Linked DNA regions of Homo sapiens: region 1 is linked to region 2. The links come from fine-mapping of genetic effects on gene expression. Tissue or cell type: whole blood. Region 2 holds a variant in brackets; the other region holds the start of a gene. All regions are shown on one strand. Distances are between the middles of the regions.

Region 1 (8,173 bases), 50 kb after region 2:
CCTTTGTCCAGCGACCAGGCTCTGTCCCCGAGAAGCTACGGCCGACCTGGGTCTGGTGTTGGGACGCATGGACCGGGCTGGGGAGGTGCACAGAGTGATGTTAACTTTTTCCCGTGTGTAGATATGTACAGCCAAAGGGTCGTGTAAATGTTCTGCAAAAGTGGGTCTATACAGAGTGAAAGCTATTTATTTTGTGCAGAGAAAAAAGTCTGGAGGGATGGAACCTTCAGGGTTTATTCATATTTAAGATGTAGCTTTTTGTTGTTTCAGGCATTATGTATAAAGCAACGATTATTTTATGGACCAAGTTTTCATGTAACTGTTGCAGTGAAAGTGCAATATCTGACCCCCCTGCTCCCAGCAGGAAGTTGCTTGGCCCGACAATCACAGCCCCTGTCAGGGGCCCTGTGGCCAGTGCCTCCTCCTCTCTTGGCCCCACCTTATCCTGTCTTGCCTGCTGCCTGGGAGACCAGCCATCCAGAGAAGCACCTGGAAGAGTCTCGGGCCCTCCTGCAATAAAGGCCGGGAGGCCCTGTGGGCAGTGGGCTCAGCCTCTCCCCAGGGGGGCAGCTCCCCCACGGCTCCTCACTCCCCGCCTGCCTGCCCAGCCGCCAGCCATGCCAAGGACAACAGCAATAGTCCCCTGGGGCTCTCCCAGCGGCCCTCAGCCATAGATGGCAAGGTGGGCAGCCTGCCCCCCCATGGGAAGTCTCTTCTGTATCCAGGTCTGCTTTCCACCTCCCTTCAGATTCCTTTTGGCACATTCTCCTCTTGAGGAAGTACCAGTCTTTCTGAAACTAAGAGAGGGAGGGCAGCGTCCTTTAAAAATACCAAAAATGTTTACAGAGTTGGGTGCTGAGCTGCAGGGCTCAGGCCTGACCAGTCATAACCAAAGGGTGAGGCAGGCCTTGCTGACTGCCACCCCCCAGGCCTGTTAGAATAGAAGCCTTAGTCCCACTCCCACCACACCCCCACGCCCCACCACCTGCCTTCTCTTTGATTTCTAAAGAGGGATTCAGCAGAGACCCCCCACCCCTCCCTGGCTCGGTCTGAGTCCCACTGCCCACCCCATCACAGCCTTCACGTCTCAGCCCCTCCCGTCTGGTCTGTCCGTGTGCCGTCTGTTTCTCTGGGCCATGTGTGAGCAGTGTCCCCATCTCCCCATCCGTCCCTGCTGTCCCCGCATCATTGGGCCTGAGTGTGCTCTGTATACAACGTCATGTCTGTTACACCAATTAAAGAAGCGGGAAGGCTTCCTTCTGGATCTCTTTACTGCAGTGGCGACCGTGGGGCATGGTGGGATGGGGGCATGGAACAGTAATGCTAGTGACACTCACAGTGACGCCAACACGTGAGTGCGGGGCTGACTCTAGGCCTAGCCTGCTTCTAGCTCCTTCCTGGGATGGAACTCAGTTTGCCCTCACAGACCTCAGTGAAACGGGTGCTGTGAGCCTCCCTGCCTCAGAGTGGAAGACACAGCTGGGCAGTGAGAGCCAGACCTGCCACACAGGCCACCCAGCCCCAGCACCTGGCTCTGCACTGCTGCGATCTGTGGAATGAACATGGCAGGGGAAGCCGACTCTCTCCATGCCTGAGTGCATGGCATTTCAGAGCCAGCTCTCTGGGTTTGGGGTTCAGCTGGCATGAGGTCTGGTCCAGGCAGGCTGACCTGAAGAGGAAGGCACAGGCGCTGGTGTGGCCTGTGCTCACGACCACCAGAGGACACCCCAGCTTTGCCCAAAAGCTCCCGGAGCCCTTGTTTTTCCCTGGCAGTCATGTAGCACCCTTCCCTCCCACTCAGCACAAAAAGCCACAGAACAGAGAAAGTCTATCCAGGGGGCCTTTAATAGCTGAGAAGTGCTGCTCTTTCAGATGGGGGTGCCAAGCAGGCCGGTGACCCCAACCTCCACCCCCTGCCCCTGAGAAGAGACTGGGCTGGGCCAGAGACCAATCCACGGGGGAAAGGCCACCAGCACCCATCAGGCTTCCCACTGGCACCCTGAAACCTGCCCAGGCTGGGCCGCCAGCGTCGTCCACAGGCCTTGGCCAGCGGGGGCCCTCAGGGAAGCAACCCAGCTCGCATCTGGAAGGCCAGGCAGTCCCCTCGGGTGGCTTGCTGGGGAAGAAAGCACACAGGAGGAGGGGTACATCACAAACAGAGCTGGGGGCGGATGGCAGGCAGAGGGGCCACACCCACCTTGTTGATCTCTCTGTGTCGTTCTTTGGTTACGATTTCCTCTAGGACCTCGCCATCTCCCTTAATAAGCCTGGGGGTGGGAGGGTCTCCGTTCAGCAAGGAATAGGCAGGTCCCCTAATGCCAGAGGAGCAGAACCACAAGCAGCCGGCAGAGGGGTCCCAGGGCTCCCACCCCGCAGCCTTGAGTGGACAGACCCTGGGGCCTCACCCACTCTCCCTGATGAAGGCAGTGGAGCTGGGCTCTGCCTTGCCAGCCTCAGCCCGGCCAACAACAGCCCTTTCAAGAGCCTCCTCCAGGCCCTTCCAGCCCCTGCAACTACTTACTCCAAGTGACCGTATTTTTGCCCACATTTGGCCTTTTTCAGGCACCAGGAACCCCGCCCGGCCCCACTCCTCCCGAGAGCACACATCTTCAGCCAACACTCCCAGATCCTGTGGTGTAAGTCAGGCCGAAAGCTCCCCACCTGGTGCGCCCCGTCTCAGGGTCCACCACCTTGCGGATGATGCTCTGCCGGGCATCCCACTCCTCCTTGGTCATGGGCTTCATGGCCTGGATTCGGGACTTCTGCTCATCCGTCAGGACTGGAAGGGAAGACGGAGGTGGTGGCCAGGCCTTGGGAAGCGACCTTCTCCCTCTCAGGTGCTGGGCAGCACAGTACCTGGGCCATCCTCTTCCTCCCCAGCTGATCGGTGCCACTGGTCCAGCGAGGGGCCCGGCAGAGCCTCCACCTGCTGTGCTTCCGCCTTCTCCTTGCCCTTCTTCTTCAGCTTCTTCCTCTTCTTCTTCTTCTTCCTCCTCTTGTCCTTGTACTTCCCCCGCTTCTTCCGGCCATCACTGGAGGAAGAGGAGGAGGACGAGGAGGAAGAAGAGGAGCTAGAAGAACTGGAAGAAGAGGAGGAGGAGCTGGATCTTGTTCTCCTCCGGGCCTTCTGCTTGCTTCTCTCTGTGATGCAGGGAGAAGGTGAGGCTGGAAGGCCAGGAGGGGAAGAGGTAAACCTTCGTCCCCTGCTCTGGCCTGGGGCAGGCACAGACCGGCTACAGGGTGAGCGCTTCCTGAGGGGCTTTCCAGAACAGAGATGGAGCTTCCCAGAGGAGCCCCTTCCTGGCTCCTGCGGCGCCTGGCCCTCACATCTCAGGCCCGGCTGCACAGAGGCATGACTGAGCGTCCCCGACCACTGCTCGCCCGACTTCCCCGGGTAGTAACTGCGCCTCCTCTCCCCGATGCCTGTGGTCCTCACCCTCCGCCCCAGGGGCCGTGCTGGCCTTGCGACCTTGGGATGTGGAGGCCGAGCAGTTCCTCGAGGTGTCTTTCCTGCTCTTCTTCTTTCTCTTTTCCGACCCCCGTCCCCGGGACCGGCTGCGACTCCTCGAGCGCTTGCGGGAGCCGACGTGAGCCATGGCGCCGCGGGCTGGCGACGAAGAAGACGCGCTTGAGCCGAAGCCCCCAAGGCCGGCCGCGGGCGGGCTCCAAGGGTGGCTCTAGCGGGGCCGGGGCCTGGCGACGCCCAGTACCCGTCACCGTCCCGGGAAAATGAGCGACCCTCACCCACCCCCAGCGCTGGGGACCCCGGTTTTCTCCGCCGACTCCAGTCCCCGCAGCGGTGCCTGTTAAGGGCCCGCCCCGTGCCCGGAGGCCCCACGCCTGCGCACCCGGCTCCAAACCCCTGGGAACTGGCCGCCGTCCGCCGCGAGTGGCGTCTGGGGCGCTTTCCCGCGCTCTCCTACCCTCCAGCCCCGCGCCCTTCGCGGCCTCGCCGCCTCAAGGGGGCCCCCGGGGCTGCTCCGTTCCCACCTCGACCGCCCTGCGGGCCGGACAGCCCGCCCCGCGCCTTCTCGAGAGGAAGCGGCGGCGAGGAGGCTTCCGGCCGGGGCGCTGCGCGGGAGGCTGGCCGGCTGGGAAGCGCGGCGCCGCTGCCTTTCGTTCTGACGCCCCAGGTTCCGTCCCGGGCGCGCCCACCTCCCGCAGAGGCAAGCAGGGGCGCCGGCCCTCGAGCTCCGCAGCCCCTCACGCCTGTGTCTGCCGAAGCTGCGCCCACTTCCAAGGCTGCCCTCTCGGCGCACGCCCGCAGCACCCACGCCCCCGGTGCCCTGGGAAGAAGGCGACCCTCGCGCGCGCCGCCCTCCTCCCCGGCTGGTCCTGCCCTCTCCATACGACTGCGAGCTCCAGACTGAGGCGCCCTGGTCTTTCCGACGCGCCCACCCAGTGACTCAGAGGTCGCAAACTCGTGTCCGTAGGGGCCAGAAAGATCTTGGCAGTGAGCGCGGGCATGGACCCCAGGCCCATCCGGAAGGAAGCCAGGATTCTGCTCCAGCTGATACGTGCAACGTGGCATGGGGCTGGTGCCCCACCTTCCCAGGGAGACCAAACTCAAGACTGCAATATGGAAGCCCCCTGAGTTTCAAATGTGTAACCCAAAGCGTGGCTGTGCGCTTCATCCAATCTCGGGCCCCCAAGTTGCAACTCTTCCACAATGACAGCCGCAAACACAAAGGGATCTTGCAAAGCACTTTATATACGTCAGCGCATTTGACTCCCAAAACAGCTCTAGGAGGTAGGTGCTAAATGAGGAAACGAAGGCACCAAAAGGTGAAGGCTCACCTAAAGCCACACAGCTGGAAGTGGCAGAAGCAGAATGGGAACCCGGGCAGCCTGGTTCCTGGCCCTGCCATTCACCCCTCTGCCATCTAGAAGATGCTACTGGTGGCCCACCCGAGTCCACTGGGGGGTGATGCCTGCTGCTGAGGGTTCACATCTGTGCTCTCTGGAGGCTTCCCTTGGCTACTGGAAGGCACCCTGCCCTGGAGATAAGTGTCTGGGAAGTTATTCACTCCTCTCTGGCCCCCTCATCCAGGAGCCAGTAACCGGTGGTGTGGGCACACTGTGGTACTGTGGGCTCTGCCTGGAGCTCTCCGTGGGGCCAGCTGAGGCTGGACGTCCTCTGAAGCCACTTCCTTGCCCAGCTGCTCCCTCCCCTCCCCTGCTTCCCTGACTCCCTCGCTGAAGCCCCATTCCAGACCCTGCTTCTGACAAACCTGAACTAAGGCAGCATCTTTGCCCATAGAATGACCCAGAAGCTGGCACACCGTTGAGCCAAGAAGTGCAGTAGGCTGCGGGGATTTTATTTCTGCCCCCAGACCAAGGCAACGGAGCCCTCACCTGCCTGCCACCCCCACACTGGGCCCAAGCAAGCTCAGGTGAGCGCACATACATCCACCGTGGCGGGCTCCTCTCGGGTGAAGCCATCACCGAAGCCCTCATCGTCCACCAGGTCGGGCTCACGGCAGCACATGGGACAGAGGCTGTTGCGCACAGCAGAGGCTCGGAGCCAGACGACAAGGTTCCAACGCTCACCAGTGCCCAAGGGCCGGGCTCCATGCAGCTGGCCGCCACGGTGGAGGACACCCTGGCCCACCACGTGCTCCACCTCCAGGGGCTCCGTCAGGGCTGTGGGTGCCTGCAGATGGCACGACTCAGGCCTGGGCACTCACAGCTGCCCCAGGCCCTGCCGCATGGGTCACACACTCACCTGGAAGAGGCCCCCAAAATACAGGGCGCCCCCTGTGAAGACCTTGCCCAAGGCCACATTGAGGGTGAGCTCGGCATTATCATAGTGGCAGCCCAGCTCCAGGTCCTGGCCCGGTGCGTATTTGACCACAAAGGCCCGGTGGCTGTCGAGCCGGCCCCCGCCACAGTCAGGGTACAGCAGGGCCATCAGCGGCTGCAGGAAGCGCTCCCGCAGTGGTGTCATCAGCGGCTCGTCCAGCCCGAGCTCGTGCAGCAGCACCTGGGAGGGGATTCCTGGGGTCAGCAAGGAAACTAGAGGGCTGCAACCCTGGGCTTCCACTCCACGGTGATCCCACTGTGACCTTCTTTCGCAGCCCGGGCAGGCAGCCCATCTGCAGAACCTCTGACACTGCCTCCTGACCCCAGCCACCCCCTCCTCTGCCACCGGCCAGGCCTCACCCACCCCGTAGTTGTTCATGGTGTTGGGCCTCCCCTTAGGCATGTCCGATTGCTCGAAGTGCTCCAGCTCTTCCAGCAGGGCCTGGCAGAAGGGCGCTGTGAAAACAGGCACCCGGTAGATGCGCTTCTCCTCTGTGGAAGGAGGGATGGTCTGTTGGCCTGAATGTGGCCGTGGGCCGGCCAGGCCTGGGCTTCAGTCTTCCTGTTTCATCACCTGTGCCATGGAGATGAGGCCTTTGCTTTTCAGGGCTATTGTGATGACTTAAGGAAGTAACATGAGGAGCAGGGGAGGCCGATTCCCATGCCCCCCACTTATGCCCGGAACCTTTCCCCAGACTCTACAAGTGTCCACAGGGCTGGCCCTGGGAGCTCACATATGGGTCCTGAGGCCCAGAGAGGGGAAGGAAGTAGCCCAGGGACACCCAGCAGGCCAGTGACAGCCAAGTCGGGATCACAGAGCCAACTTCAGGCTCTCTCTGCACCTCCTTTCATCTGATGAGCCACCGAAGTCTGTACCCCAACTCAGAAGTGGCTCTGGGAGCCTCTGTCCCCCAGCAGGAAGGCCAGAAGGGGCTGTTCTTTCTTGCTGGGCCCTGAGGGGGAAGAAACCAGGCTGAGAATGGAAACCTAAACATTTCTTGGCGGACGCACCAATGCCCAGGGGTGCAGGGCTAGTGTGCCCACGATGGGGCCACCTCGCAGCCTAGGCCCTGCCCCAGCCAACAGCCTCAGCACTATCTCAGCTGCCGGGGAGTGGAAGGCAATGAGGAGAGCACCCCCAGGCTGGGAGGAGGGGGATTCATTCCACCCATGACTCCCAACAAAGCACAGGCTCCATGAGGGGAAACTTGTATCTGCCTCCCACAGGAGCCCCTAGCCCAGGCTATCAGTGCCAATAAGAATAGGAAACACTTTCCAAACACTACGTGCGGGCCCTGTGACAGGCACTCTATGCAGATTAACTCACTTGATCGTCGCAGTGCCTTAAGAGAGGGGGTTACTGTTGCTCCCATTTTACAGATGAGGAAACTGAATCAGAGGTTAAACAACACGCAAACCTCCCTTGCCCAGCATTTCCTGCTGGGTTTAGCCAATAAGTGAGCCCAGCAAGAAATCCGAAGAGAAGTGGGGCATTTTTTGCCCTACTTGGAGTTTGGCATGGCCGCAGGCCTCCGCCCAGAGCCACAACTCCAGGTGGTAACTGCTCCCTCCTGTTGCCAGCCCTGGGGGGCCGGGCTTTGCCATTCCTTACTGGTCCCTTTATCCTGCCCATACCTGTCTCAATGGTCCCTTTAAGATCTTGGATCAGCCCTGTTTGAGTGTGCCAGCTGTCCCACACATGACACAAATATCCACTATTTGCTGGATGAGGGCACGAAGGAAGGGTGAAGGAAAGAATGAAGATACCAGGCTCATGGCAGGTATTGAATGAATGAATGCGGATGTCCTGCTCCTGGCAGGTTGGTCCCACTGACCCTTCCAGCTCCTGCTGGTTTGGTTTTTGGAGGCAGAGATGGTGGCTGGAGGGACCCCAGCATCCCACACCCAGGTTTCCCAGGCTGCCATTCCCTGGTCCTGCCAGGTCTCAGGGCCAGGACCTCACCCGATACTGTCTCCAGCCGCTGGAGAAGGCCCTTGAGGTCTGCGTCTGGGGACACGCTGTACTCAGTCACGGCCAGGAACTCGGGGGCCAGAGCTGCATCCTGGGAGCAAAACACACCAGCTGTGGGGCAGGCAGCACCCCCAGCCCTGGATGCTACCTCCTCTTTCCAGTACCGGCCTTCAAGCACTCTGGCTGGCTGGTACCTGCAGTGAGTCGTAGACCTCAGGCCGTGCCGGGTGGTAGGAACTCGCGATGAGGGCTTTCCTAGCTGCTGACTCCTGCCCCAGCCGCTGCCGCCGCTCCACCTCCTGCTCAAGCTGGGGTGGCACAGGGTTGTTACCAGGTGGGGCCTCCCATCCTCCTGAGGCCACTGTACAGATGAAGAAACTGAAGCCCAGAACGCCAGAC
Region 2 (8,173 bases):
CCGCCTACAACGCGAACACTTGCCCTTGCGTTCAGCACCATTATCTCCCTGGCCCAGACGTTATCCCTATGTTTTCCTATGTTTCAGTTTGCCTGGGCTGCCATCAGTAAATACCACAAACTGGGGGCGTAGAGGAACACACTTCCTCACAGTTCTGGGGGCCGGAAGTCCCAGATCAAGGCCTGGCAAGTGCGGTTTCTGGTGAGGGCCCTCTTCCTGGCTTGCACATGGGCGCCTTCTCCCTGTTTCCTAACATGGCAGAGAGTGAGCAGGCTCTGGTGTCTTCTCTTTTTCTTTTTCTCCTCTGTTTTTTATTTGTGTAAATGTATAGGATACAACTGTAATTTTGTTGCATGCACAGATTGGAAAATGGTGCTTGTAGGGTATCTATCACTCAAATACCCTGTACTCATTAAGTAATCCCTCATCTTCCACCCTTCCTTATCTTCTAAGGACACCAGTCCCATTGTGAGGGCCCCACCCATATGATCTCATCTAGCCCTGATTACCACCCAAAGGCCCCATCTCCAAATACCATCACACTGGGGGTCAGGCCTTTTAGGGGGACAGAGACATTCAGTCCATAACACCCCATTCTACAGACAGGAAGGCGTATGAGGCCCAGAGATGTTAAATGCCTTGCCAAGGAGCACAGGGCCTGTCTCCTAGCTCCCAGCTCCATGCTTTCCTCACCACCCTGACTGCTTGCAAAAAAGCAGTGTCAGACATGTGGCTCACTTACAGACGCACACAGGAGTTTGAGGATGACAGGCTCCTTTGACGAGCCAGAGACTCTTGCTTAGGAGACACCTCCAGTCTCCCTACTCAGTGCCTGATCAACCTGGAACACAAGACCTGGCTGCCTCTGGCTGACCCCAGATGGGACCACTGCTCCCACTTGCTGCAGTCCTGGCTGCAGTCCTTTCTATGTAGAGGTTCCATCCCAGCTCTCCTGCTGGCCTTCTGTCCACCCTCAGTGCCTGGCATGGCCTAGCCCGGCAGCTTCCCTCCAGGCTGAGGGTCTTCGGGCTTCCCACACTGATTATGAACCTGCTGTCAGCCTGGCTCTGGCTCCTCTGGGCATATCAGTGCCTCCAGTCCCTGTGACCCAGTGGGGCTTGCCCTCCTCCAGCTTCTTGCTGTACAACCCCTTAATTACAGCATCAGACTGAGTCGTTGGTGTGGGGGAAAGGCTTCAGCAGGGCCTCCACCTCCCATCACTGGCTTCGCCTATTGGGCTCCCACCTTCCACCCAGGTCAGGGGAGGTAGCTGTGAGCTCGCAGCAGAGCCTGCAGCCCCAGCTGCCTTCTGGGAGGAGCTTGAGGAAGCTGCAAGGGTTTGTCCAGGCTCCCCTATGTGGGAGCCTTGGCTGGGAAAAGAACGGAAGGTGAACCCAGCCTCTCCGGGGGGCTGTTTGCTCTGAGCTGCTTCAGAAGGACCACTCAATTCCCTCTTGAACCACTTACCCGATAATTATTTCTAGAGAGTGGAGAGAGAGGAAGCAGCTTAAATCAGCCCCCCATCTCTGAGCACTCTGGAAATAGCTCAGCGTGTTCAAGGACCAGGCTGATCTGCCAGTGCTGCTGTTGTCTTACTGCTTCTCAATTCCCACCCAAGCCAGGGTGAACCCAGACCACAGGAGCCCCTCAGCTCCACCTGGCCTCCCGGTGGCTGTCAAGATCGGGAGGACTGACCTCCAGCCCCCAGGAGATCCCAAAGCTGTTCTGGAGCATAGAATCACCTCTGGGCTCCTCAAAACACCTGTCACTCCAGGTTTTTGTTTGTTTGTTTGTTTGTTTGTTTGTTTTTGAGATGGAGTCTTGCTCTGTCGCCAGGCTGGAGTGCAGCATCGTGATCTCGGCTCACTGCAACCTCCACCTCCTGGGTTCAAGCGATTCTCATGCCTCAGCCTCCGGAGTAGCTGGGATTACAGGCACGCGCCACCACACCCAACTAATTTTCGTATTTTTAGTAGAGACAGGGTTTCACCATGTTGGCCAGGACAGTCTCAGTCTCCTGACCTTGTGATCCACTCACCTTGGCCTCCCAAAGTGCTGGGATTACAGGCGTGAGCCACGATGCCCAGCCACTTCAGGGTTTTTTTGAACACCTATCCTTATGCCTCGAATGAATGTAACTGTTAAGCATCATATAGTTCCCTGTTAGACGCTCAGACCTTCCTGCAGCTGTGCAGCCAGGCCCCGTCCATCTAGCCGACACATGCAGTGTCTTTTGAGAAGCTCCATTGATTAGGATTGTGGCAGGATGGAAACATCTCCCGCCTTGCAGATCGTGAGCATCAGCACTCTCAGGGCCCTTCGTGAGAGCTTGTTGGACAGATGGGCATCCTCCCCAGCTAGGCAGAGACACTGTGGCCTCTAAGGGCTAGCTGGAGTCATTGCTGCTCCTCTGAGCTTCCAGAGCCTTTCCCTGTGCACCTTCTGGGTGAGCAAGCATGTGTGCACACGTCTGCTTTCCTGTTAAAAAAGAAAGGTGAAAGAAACCAGGTATTGCCGGGAGAGGTGCTTCTGTGACAGGCACTAGCATGCTTGGAGGGGAGATTGGGGGCAAGGCTGTTGGTGTTCCTGCTCAGGCTGGCTGGCTGGGCAGCTCTCCTCTGGGCAGGCCTTGAGGCTGGGGGTGTCGGATAGACAGCTTGGTGATGGGCAGGGGGTCTGCTGCACATCACAGGTGCTAGTGCCCTGCACCTGTGTCCTCTGTGTTCTTGGTGTGTGCTGTCTCCGGCCTGAGGACTAATTGCTGTGTTTGAGGTGCTTCAGCCCTCATGTAGTTACCAGGAAGCCATAGGTTCCTGCTAGAGCTACTGACTGGGAAGTTTCCCATGCACTTAAGGCCCCTGCTGGCCAGCCCTGCCCCAGCTGGGTCTTAGACAGGCGGATGCATCGCTGGGTTCTGGCCTCCACAGCCCCCAGTCCGAGCTCCAACAAAATGAGCTCCAAGATATTGCCAGGCCCATAGGTCGTGTGCCCTCTGAGGGGCAAAACGCTGGCCTGCCTACTGTCTGCATGGACGGGGCTCAGGCTATCAGGTCTCTATAGCATTTGGAAGAAATTCTTTTGGGACTAGGGGCTTTGGGCTTACTTGATTGGTTGTTGTCTTGTTTTGCTTTTATTGAGGTGAAATTCACAAAACATTAACAACCATTTTTAAGTGAACAATTCAGTGGCATTTAGTATACTCACAATGTTGTGCAACCACCAACTTTAGTTCCAAAACACTTTCATCACCCCAGAAAGAAACCCCATATCCATTAAACAGTCACTCCTCACTCCCCCTCCCCACCCCCTGACAATCACTAATGTACTACCTGTCTCCCTGGGTTTGCCTGTTCTGGACATTTCATGTGCATGGCATCACTCACAGTGTTGCTCTTTGTGTCTGGCTTCTTTCACTCAGTGTCATGTTGTTGGGATTCATCCATGTCATAGCATGTGTCAGTGCCTCATTACGTTTTATGGCTGAATCATATTCCACTGTATGAACAGACCACATTTTGCTTATCCATTCATCCATTGATGGACATTTGGGTTGACATTAGCATACAAATATCTGTTTTCTTTTTTTTTTTTTTGAGATGGAGTCTCGCTCTGTCGCCCAGGGTGGAGTGCAGTGGCGTCATCTCAGCTCACTGCAAGCTCCGCCTCCCGGGTTCACGCCATTCTCCTGCCTCAGCCTCCCGAGTAGCTGGGTCTACAGGCGCGTGCCACCACCCCTGGCTAATTTTTTGTATTTTTAGTAGAGACGGGGTTTCACCATGTTAGCCAGGATGGTCTCGAGCTCCTGACCTCGTGATCCGCCCGCCTCAGCTTCCCAAAGTGCTGGGATTACAGGCGTGAGCCACCGCGCCCGGCCTACAAGTATCTATTTTCAATTCTTCCGGGTCTACACCTAGGAAGGGAATTTCTGGGTCACATGGTGACGCTATGCTTGATGTCTGCAGGAACCACCAGACTGTTTTCCACAGTGGCTGCACCATTTTACATTCCTACTGGGAATGTATGAAGTTTCCAGTTTCTCCACATCCTCACCAGCACTTACTGTCCTCTTTTTAAATAAATGCTACCCTAGTGAGTATGTTTTGAAACAGAAGAGTCCCCAGGTTATCTCAAGGGTCCTTCTGCCCATCTTTCAGACCAGCCAGCATGCTGTGTCCTTCTCGGAGGCTTTTCTGATCTCCATGGGCAGCATGAGTGATTTCTTTCCCTGAATCCTCGCAGTTTCCTGTCAGTCCCACACCTGGGCACCTAGTGCCTTCCACCTCTTTGTGGGTGTCTGTCTGCTTCCTGCTGGACAGTGAGTGTCTCAGGGCAGGGTTTAGGTCTGTGGGTCTGTTTTCCCAGTTTCTGGCTCATATCCTCTTTAGTGCACATGGGCTGCTCCTCCCTCCCTCACCCATGGCTCTAGTGCACACACACACACACACACACACACACACAGACACATATGTGTGTCCACACACAACATATGTACATGCAAGCACAGCCACCTATGCATACAGGTATGTACACAAATACATGCAGACACATGCACAGACCTATACAGACACATGCATGCACACACAACATGCACACATATGTGCACATGTGTACATGCATCTCCACAGACACACACACACACACACATACACCACAAGACC[C/T]AAGGGGGTAGTGCTCCTCTTGGTTGCTTTTTCTGTTTTTTTGAGATGAAGTCTCACTCTGTTCCCCAGGCTGAAGTGCAGTGGTGTAATCTCAGCTCACTGCAACCTTTGCCTCTCGGGTTTAAGCGATTCCTCTGCCTCAGTCTCCCCAGTAGCTGGGATTACAGGTGCCCGCCTCCATGCCTGGCTAATTTTTGTATTTTTAGTAGAGATGGGCTTTCGCCATGTTGGCCAGGCTGGTCTTGAACTCCTGACCTCAGGTGATCCACCCACAGTCTCCCAAAGTGCTGGGATTACAGGCATGAGCCACCATGCACAGCCAGTTTCTTTATCTGTAACCTAAGCTAGGCTCTCAGAGAGCATAGTTTCCCATTTTACATATGGGGAAATTGAGGTCCACAGGGCCAGGGTTGGAGCTCAGATCTCCGGGCTCCTAGGTGGCCTCTTTGGGACCCCTAGTAGGCCAAGGGAGGCTGCTGCCAATCTCAGAGGTGAGGGCACCCTGGCAGGCGGAGAGGACCAGGAGGTGCCAGTGTCTAGATTGGGGAGGAGGCAGCATTGGGAGGGATCTCCCCTCTCAACCCCAGCCTGTGCTGTGGCTCCCAGGCCTGAGGGCAGAGCAGGTGGGCAGGAGGGGAGAGGTTCAGGCCACCCCGACTTGGAGACCCAAGGCACTACCTGTGCCCTTCCTGTCACCAAGACCCCTACTGTCAGCCCAATTTCCATCTTGAGAGCTCTTGCCCCTCCTGCAGGGCTGGTGTGAATGCCCCTCTTCCAGGCAGCTTCCTCTGACCCTCTGGGTCCTGAGGGCACTCATTCTTCCCAGCCCCACCTGCCCGTCTGTGCCCGCTCTAGCCTTTTTCTAACCTGCGGTTCCTGGGGTTCTTGTCACTGTGGGGTGATGGACTCAAAAGTGTGAACGTACGTCAGAATCACCAGCTGCTCCTTTACATGTGTACAGCTTATTGTATGTCAGTCATACCTCAGTAACATTGCTAAAAAGTAAGTTAAAGTCACCTGACTTTCCTGTGCACTTCCTGTGCCAAGGGCTGAGTTGCAGAGGGGGATGAAAGTCCTTCCCGTTCTCTGGGAAGATAGATTTCACATACGTTTCAGCACAGGCTCAAGGGCACAGTCTGCACTGGCCTCCCAAGATGGATAGGCCTTCAAGAAGACTGCTGTGTTTTTGTGGAAAGAATAATAAGAAGACCTTAGTTCATCATTTCCCACTTCTGCCACTTGCCAGCCAGTGGCAGCTAGGAATAGGCCTTCCTCTCTGCAAGCTGCCCCGCTGGAAGGTTGTGAAAAAGATGGGCTGGGCTCGCGCGTCAAAGTACCTGGCACCCTGCTGGAGCAGCACTCAATATACACCGTGTTAAAGGTGAGAAAACAAAATCGTCTGCCTGGCTGGGAGAGGGCCATCCGTCCGAGGTGTTCAGCGAATGTGTGCCGCCGAGGGAGTGGCCGGAGGTGGCCTGGCCAGGACCCTGGGAGCGGCTGCTTTCAGGGGTTTCTTGGTCTTGATCTTTCTTTGCATCCTCCCCCAACTCCTTCGTTAGCCCCTGGGGAGCCAGGCCTGTCTCTGCTGTCCAACTGCCGCTGTCTCTGAAAACAGTACCGCAGCACTGTTTAGGGGAATGGTAGGCAGGGACGAGGGGGTGGCTGCTCATGTGGCAGAGATCAGAGTGATTCGAGAAGAGCTTGCTCCTAAGTGGCATGACTGAGTAGCTGTGCCAGGAGGGGCCTGCCCCCCTTGGACGCCATCACTGGTGGGGAGCCAGAGGTCAGCTTGGGGAGGACTGGCTGCCCTTGGTGATGCCAGCTTTGAAGTTCCTGGTGACAGTTGGAACTAGAATCCATTCTTCATTTGACCAATCTTTACCTAGCATCTATTTCAGGAAACACCAAAGTGCTATACAGGGGGTCCCGTCTGGCTCCCAGTGGCTCTGCCACTGACTGCAGCCCTCACACCCCTCCACAGCCGACTGAATCAGTGTCCAGCAAATGATCAGAACCTGCTTTAATCCTCACGATAACCTGCACAGTTGGTGGTACTCATCCCCATTCATCCCCATCCCCAGATGACAGCTCGAGGCTCAGAGATATCAAGGAACTTGCCCAAGGGTGCATAGCTGGCCTAATGATACCAGTCTGCCCAGAGATGTGGTGGGCTGCCTTTTTCACATTGCTTTTAGTGGAGCACTTTGAGGTCTCCTAGTTCACCCCTTCTCTGAAGTTCCAGCTGTTGGAGGTTACATGCTCTCCACCCTGTCTGACTCTGAAGCCAGTGCTCTCCCTTTCACAGCTCTGCCTTCCAGTGCTCAGATACTCAGAGCTACACATAGCACAGGGTCACCTATGGGTGGCAAGGCCAGGGGTACTGGAGTCAGCATGAAGAGTCACCATACACTGGGGAAAGTGCTGGTGACTGAAGATGTATGTGGCCAAGGGCTGGGTGGGAGGTGGTGAGGACTCCACCTGCCCCACCGAGAGATGAGGGACAGGTGGGGGGCCATCAGTGTAGTGTGCTTGTTTCTCCAGCAGGCAGGCTGAAGCTCACTCACAGGAGGCCATTGTGGGCACTCACCCCACTGGTGACCAGTGTCCCCCCCAGAATCTGCATCCACCTGCAGTCTCAGAATGTGGCCTTATTTTGAAATAGGGCCTCTGAAGGTGTAATTTGTTAAGGATCTTGAAATGAGATCATTCTGGATTTAGAGAGGTCCCTGAATGAATGACTAGTGTCCCTATAAGAAAAGGAAAGGACCAAGACACAGGAAAGATGAAGCAGAGATTGGAGAGATACAGCATGGGCCAAGGAGCACTGGGAGCCAGCAGCAGCTGGAAGAGGCAGGAGGCATCCTCCCTAGACCGCACAGGATGCTACTGGGTGAGCCTGCTGTCCTGGAAAAGGCGTGAAGTCTGCCTGAGTGGGCAGGGGCTTCTGCGCAGCCACCCAGCAAGGCCAAGGTGGAAGGGACCCTCCTGGCCCCTGTCCTGGCTCCACCCTCAGCTGCTGGCAGGTGGGTCACCAGGCCTCTGCCCAAAGAAACTCCTGCAGGCAGCTCTGGACCCCCTGTCTTACACACCTTCTCACTGAGCCTGCCAGCATCCCAGGTATCTTATTTCCTGGCGCTGCCATAACAAAGAACCACAAACTGCATAGCTTGAAACAATAGACATTTATTCTTTCACAGTTCTGGAGGCCAGAAACCAGAGAGGCAGGTGTCCGCAGGGCTGCACTTCCTCCAAAGGTTCTACGGGTAGACCCTTCCTTGTCTCTTCCAGCTTCTGGTGGCTCCAAGCATACCTTAGTTTGTGGCCACGTCACTCCATTTACATCGGCAAAGACCCTATTTCCAAATAAGGTCACATTCCAAGGGCCTGGTGGGGACATTCCACCCATTACGCCAGGGCATGGACAGATAGGTAGTCCTGTCTCCACTTAGAGTTTGGAAATTGACACCAAAGAGAAGTGACTTGTCCAGGAGGAGAGGGAGCTGGTCACAGAGTTG

Evidence for each region. PIP is the estimated chance that this variant, and not a neighbour inherited with it, causes the effect.
Region 1: it holds the start of ARL6IP4, and the variant in region 2 is fine-mapped to the expression of ARL6IP4 in whole blood (TOPMed, PIP above 0.99).

The regions. Positions count from the first base shown.
Region 1 is chr12:122,976,563-122,984,735 of GRCh38, reverse strand. It overlaps ARL6IP4 (ARF like GTPase 6 interacting protein 4), which reads right to left and starts at 4,055. Exons shown (of 6, transcript NM_018694.4): 1 at 3,991-4,055; 2 at 3,437-3,607; 3 at 2,857-3,165; 4 at 2,662-2,779; 5 at 2,198-2,267; 6 at 1,827-2,116. The coding sequence starts at 3,596. The coding sequence ends at 2,060. It overlaps OGFOD2 (2-oxoglutarate and iron dependent oxygenase domain containing 2), which reads right to left. Exons shown (of 7, transcript NM_001304833.2): 3 at 7,969-8,082; 4 at 7,766-7,865; 5 at 6,167-6,294; 6 at 5,726-5,983; 7 at 4,694-5,653. The coding sequence ends at 5,390. PITPNM2 (phosphatidylinositol transfer protein membrane associated 2) reads left to right here. Exons shown (of 26, transcript NM_020845.3): 26 at 1-1,256. RefSeq lists silencers at 3,639-3,738, 3,749-4,388 and enhancers at 3,471-3,976, 3,977-4,482, 4,639-4,858.
Region 2 is chr12:123,026,113-123,034,285 of GRCh38, reverse strand. The region is part of intron 3 of PITPNM2 (phosphatidylinositol transfer protein membrane associated 2); the gene reads left to right. Among named protein-coding and RNA genes, the nearest start is that of MIR4304, 19 kb to the right of the region's middle. RefSeq lists enhancers at 4,809-5,766, 5,767-6,725. The variant C/T (reference allele first, on the strand shown) is at 4,659.